Linked DNA regions of Homo sapiens: region 2 is linked to region 1. Evidence: fine-mapped expression QTL. A gene starts in region 1. The other region holds a variant in brackets. All regions are shown on one strand. Distances are between the middles of the regions.

Region 1 (2,914 bases):
GGTGGAATAAATGGGTGGGCAGGATGGAGCTATTCATATCTCAATACTCACAGTGTCCCTGCCAGTGCTGGAGTCCGACTCTGCCTGCACAGGAAGCACGCACCCAGCAGCTCATGCTGACCGTCATGGATTGAGTCTAGATCCCAGAATGAGCGTTCTTGCCACAGCAAGTACTGCTAGGAAGTCACCTTTGAGGGGACTCCACCTGACAATGGTATTTGCAAGACCCCTTCCCGGGACTGCAATGCACACGCATACACACACACACGACATTTTTTCTGTCATCAAGCAGCTACAGGAGACCACCATATTATTCCCAATTGGCCACCAAACACATCCTTGTTACCACACTTCTTTGAGCTTGAGTTGTCATTAGTTACCTGGGACCTCGGCGTGTTTTCGTCTTCCCTCCCTCCCTTCCTCTCTCCCTCCCTGTGAGGTTAAGAAAATAAAGATAATAACAGTGAAAATCTGGAGAACCCCACATGCTTCCTGCAGAGTGCTTTAGGAATAAAAGACATTAATGTCAGTTTTTTCCCCTGTAATTAAAATGTCCTTTAAGGAGGACTGCACACTTGACTGATGCACCCTGGGCAAAAAGCCAGAGGGCCAAACTGACCTGTGGAGACTTGTAGGGGTGGCACCTAGGGAGATCAGAGGCATTTCTCTATCCCACGGGGTAATGTGGGGTGTGAAAGCCACCTGCTTCTCTCTCCCAGCACCTAGCAAATAGTGCTCTGGAAGTAAGTCCCCCTCTGCCCCATCCACAGCCTCAGTTCCTTTCTGGGGGTTCATCGGGGGAGGGAGGAAACTAGGGGACCCAGCGGGCCCTCCCAGCTGTCACAGGCACGTGTCCCAAGGCAGCCGATTTTGCTTTTATTGCTTGCTCGTCTTGAGGTACTCCCATAGGCTATTTGGGGCTTTTCTGTATCGTTCTTTTCACTTTCCCCTTTACTCTGTCAGCAGAGGCTTCTCCAATGAATGCAACCTCCCTAGTCTCCCTTTCCCCGACTGCCTCTCCCCTCCAAAACACTCCAGCCTATCCCAATCACATGCAAATGCAAACAGACATCTCCCCTCTGGAGTGGATTCTAGCGGATCCTCTAGTTGCCTGAATTACAAAGTTGGTCCCTTGGTTAAAGCATTCCTTCACTGGCTCAGCTTGCTGGAAAGACTTTTAAGAGAAAGAAGAGGAGACAGACCCCAAGGTACAGAAACCCGACCTACCACGGCTTGCTCCTTCCCTTTCCTCGCAGAGGTTTTCTCTCCAGCCCTGGACTCCTGTAGGATCTCAGCTCTGAGCTCCCCACAGCTCCGGCCTCCTTTAAGTTTCCAGGCAGGGGGTGGGGTCGGTGGCCCCGGCTGGGCGGGTTTCTGTGTGGCGGGAGGATGCTCAGTGGACAGGGCCATGAGGGAGCTGAGGCAGGCCTGTTTTTATAAAGCAGGGGGAGGAAGTTCACGGTGGAAGCAGCACAGCCCATCCTGGCTTCGGGCCAGGCTGATTATTCACAGCCGTGATGTCATTGAATCGCAGGAATTTGGAAGTGGGATGGGACCTTAAGAATCATCTTCCTTTAGAGTCCTAGTGTCCCAGGCTTAAAAGGGACTTTCAGGACCCTGTGATGACAAGAAGTGTTTATAATTCTAAAGGCAGCAGGTTGGGGCTGGGAGTGGGGTGTCTTCTGGAATCTGTGGCTGTAGCTCTGGCCTCTCAGGACATGAGAGGTTAAAAGGACTGGAGGATGCACAAGGATTGGAACACTTTGTGTGGTGGCGGGAGCTCAGGGGGGTAGCCACTGAGAAGGCAGGACCAGCCTTGGGCTCACCTGCGGTAGGAGGTGCCCCCATGGGGGTTTGCTCCGGTAGGCATCTTTGGCCCTGTTCTGTAATTTTAGGGAGAATCTTTCTCTTCTTTGTAAAGTGCAGGGCTGCAGTAGGTGGCCTCCGGGGACTTTCCGGCTCCAGCATCCCCTTGAGTGGGCCCAGGGAATATACACAGGGCCTTGGGGCCAACATGCCTGAAATTCGATCAAAGCCATCAGCCCTTAAGCCCACCGAAGCCTTTCAGTATTTGCTTGTAAAATGCCCCTGGAAATAGACAAGCCATTTCCCTTGCTGACACCTTTTCAGATGACTGAGAAATAAAAGCCCTGTCGTGTAGGGGAAAGTCTTAGGTTTAAATCCGGCTGTGCCAGTAACTGGGATATGACCTCAATCAAGATTTTCAACTATGCTGAGCTCTGGCTTTTGCATCTGCAGGTCACGTGAGGATCAGAGAGAAGCCACGCATGTCAGGGCCCTGGCACATCACAGGGCTCAGCAGGAGCATCTATCATCATTGGTTCATGTCTGGCTGAGACCAGACCTTGTAAAAATGAGAGAGAGGTGAAAGAAAGAACGCAGGGAGGGAAGAGAAGTTTGGCAGAGGAAATTGTGGGATGACCGACTATTCAGGAGAGGCCAGATTTCATACATTCTGATCCTAAATATACTCATATTTGTCAAACCATGAGTGCTGAGTTTGAAGTTGAAAGGCACCTAACTGCTTTTCACATTGCTTTCAAACTGTTTTTCACATTTTTATGAAGCTGCAGCCCTGCTGATGGTCATTGTAGAAAAGGGGCACTGGGGTGGGTTGCCTGCTGAGCACGGGAGGTAGACCTCCCATGAGCAGCAGCAGCTGTGGGCCTGTCTGGTGGGCATGGGGCTGCTTTCCTGCAATGTGGTCTAAGATGGTGAGGATGGAGGCTTTTTTGGGGGGTGGGGCATTGCCGTTCAGCAGGGAGTGCTGGTCATGAGGACTCTCATTTGAACTCTTGAGAGGATGGTTTTCCACTGAATGGTTGCACTTAAATCCTGGATCCTGAACCTCTATGGAAAACAATATGGAGATTTCCCAAACTAAAAATAGAAC
Region 2 (2,914 bases), 49 kb after region 1:
ACTTTTAATAAGGAATCTCAGGTTAGACTTTCCAAGTCTCTCAAGAATACAAAGAGAACTTGTCTGGCTTGTTTCAACTTTGCCTGCAATATCTGTAGACTTTGATGAATTATTCTTTTCTTGATGTCCCCAATATACCTGAGGTCTGCCAGGAAGTGACCTTTCTTACTCATCTGTAAGGCAACCACATAAAGAAACCACATAAGCAAAGTATGAGGTTGGCTTTTTGGCTCCATAAAGTCAACCTTAGTTCCTTAAAACTGTCTGATCATATCGGATTATATGTTCATTTTCATATTTGATATTCCAGTCAACGTCTTAGCAATATAATCAAGGTTTTCAATTGTGTCCCTGTTATAAGGAGACTAGATTCTTACTGAATTTATGAAAATAACTATATAGTGCCAAGCATGGTGGCTCACACCTGTAATCCCAGCACTTTGGGAGGCCGAGGCGGGTGGATCACGAGGTCAGGAGTTCAAGACCAGCCTGGCCAACAGAGTGAAACCCCGTCTCTACTAAAAATACAAAAAAATTAGTCAGGAGTGGTGGCGGGCACCTGTAATCCCAGGTATTTGGGAGGCTGAGGCAGGAGAATCGCTTGAACCCGGGAGGTGGAGGTTGCAGTGAGCCGAGATTGCACCATTGCACTCCAGCCTGGGCGACAAGAGTGAAACTCCATCTCAAAAAAAAAAAAGAAAAAGAAAAAGAAAATAACTATATAGTCATGAGTAGTCATGAAAATAAGAATAGCCAGTAAGAGTTTCTGAATTCTACAGGGATCAGGTAGAGAAAAAAGGATAAATGTTTCAATTCTGTTTACGAAGGTATAATTTACCTGATTGCTGTAAATTTTAGTTAGCTTAAGAAAAAAAGAGAAAAGCCATTAAAGACCCAGAAATGTCCTAAAACAAGAAGTCATAAGAATTATAATCATCAGTCGGGCGTGGTGGCTCATGCCTGTAATCCCAGCAGTTTGGGAGGCTGAGGCAGGTGGATAGCCTGAGGTGAGAAGTTTGAGACCAGCCTGGCCAACATAGTGAAACCCCGTTTCTACCAAAAATACAAAAAAAAAAAAAAAATAGCTGTGGGTGGTGGCATGCGCCTGTAATCCAAGCTACTCAAGTGGCTGAGGCAGGAGAATCACTTGAACCCGAGAGGCAGAGGTGGCAGTGAGCCAAGATTGTGCCATTGCACTCCAACCTGGGCAACAAGAGCAAAACTCCATCTCAAAAAAAATAATAATAATTAAAAATAATTTAAATCATCTTCATTGGGTCATCTAGTCTGATGTAATTAATTCTTGTTCTGCTTGATCTTTGGTTAGCAATTTCATGAATGAGTCAGTTTTTCCATTAGTGTTCTGGAAGTTGAACGGTATGATCTTAAAGTCATCAGGAA[C/T]GTGTACTTGTCCGTTTTCTCCATGAATCTCCTTAAATACAAATGCACTTTCTTGAGGTTCCTGGGCCTACCAGGAAATGACTTTTCTTACTCATCAGCACAGCAGCCATGCAAAGAAACCACATAAGCATGGTGGTTCATATTATAGTTGTTTGCAAAAGCTTTTAGGAATGCATCAAAATAAAACAATTAACTGTCTGTGGATGACAAAAGACTTCAAATGGTCATGGTTAAAGGATGAGAATTAATTGTAATACAATTGAGAAAAAAATTCAGTTACTTCTGTCACATACATTTTAAGATAATAACTAGAATTATAACTGACAACATTATAACTTCATGCAATTTCTGGAACACATAAATACATACAAATATGACATAAAGAAGCTTTAGTATCACTTCTTTTTTAACAATGCTTCCCATGTAATTTAACGTACCAAATTAATTTAACAAGTTTGTTTTTATAAGAAGAAAGACAAGGCCGGGTGCAGTGGCTTATGCCTATAATCCCAGCACTTTGGGAGGCCGAGGCAGGCGGATCACGAGGTCAACCAATTGAGACCATCTTGGCCAACATGGTGAAACCCCATCTCTACTAAAAATACAAAAATTAGCTGGGTGTGGTGGCACGCGCCTGTAGTCCCAGCTACTTGGGAGGCTGAGGCAGGAGAATCTCTTGAACCCGGAGGTGGAGGTTACAGTGAGCCAAGATCGCGCCACTGCACTCCAGCCTGGCAACAGAGCGAGACTCCATCTCAAAAAAAAAAAATTAATAATAAATAAAAAAGAAGAAAGACAAGTCCTTTGTGACTTTTTAGGGGCCTTCAGGAAAATTCCAAAGTTAGCTCAAGGTCAAAAACACTTCATGTAGAGTTTGATTTTTCAAAGTTGTCAAAAATGCCAAAAGACGGCTGGGCTCAGTGGCTCATGCCTATAATCCCAGCACTTTGGGAGGCCAAGGCAGGAGGATCACTTGAGCCCACGAGTTCGACATCAGCCTGGGCAGCATAGGAGGAGACCTTATCTCTAAAAAAAAATTTTCAAAGGACAATTTTTTTTTTAAAAGTCAAAAGACTAAATTTTTTGATTAAACAGGATCACAGATCACTGTAAAACATTACTCAGTTATCCATTTAACCAAAGCGCTGGAAGATTTCAGAGGTAATTACAGAAAGGTATACAGTTTTCTTTTTTTTTTTTTTAGCTTAGCTCTTTTAACAGAGAAGACTGAGTCTTCTTAAGTAATCAAACACCTGAAAAAGACAACATGAAACACAGGAAATTATTCTGATAAGACGCAGATTTTTTTCCACCTCAGCAAATTCTAGATTTCCTACACAGATTACATAGACGGTAAAGAAAAACGTTCCACAGTATTTTATCAAGAGAAGTCCAATACTCCAATAAAACTTTGTAATTTTAAGAAAGAAGATGAAACTCTAGTTTTAGATTGTACTTTTGATATTAAGGCTCATTTTTGAGATCCTTATAATAAATTGATTCAATTTTAGCC

Direction of the effects. Positions count from the first base shown, and alleles are read on the strand shown. Sizes are in standard deviations (SD) of each study's normalised expression.
In carriers of allele C in region 2, the expression in fibroblasts of the gene that starts at base 1,299 in region 1 tends to be lower than with T alone (large effect, 1.1 SD a copy in GTEx).

The links.
Region 2: its variant is fine-mapped to the expression of PLAT in fibroblasts (GTEx, PIP above 0.99).

Annotation. Positions count from the first base shown.
Region 1 is chr8:42,206,267-42,209,180 of GRCh38, forward strand. It overlaps PLAT (plasminogen activator, tissue type), which reads right to left and starts at 1,299. Exons shown (of 14, transcript NM_000930.5): 1 at 1,228-1,299. RefSeq lists enhancers at 1,800-2,318, 2,319-2,837.
Region 2 is chr8:42,255,342-42,258,255 of GRCh38, forward strand. It overlaps IKBKB-DT (IKBKB divergent transcript), which reads right to left. Exons shown (of 4, transcript NR_185843.2): 4 at 1-173. Among named protein-coding and RNA genes, the nearest start is that of IKBKB-DT, 14 kb to the right of the region's middle. The variant C/T (reference allele first, on the strand shown) is at 1,402.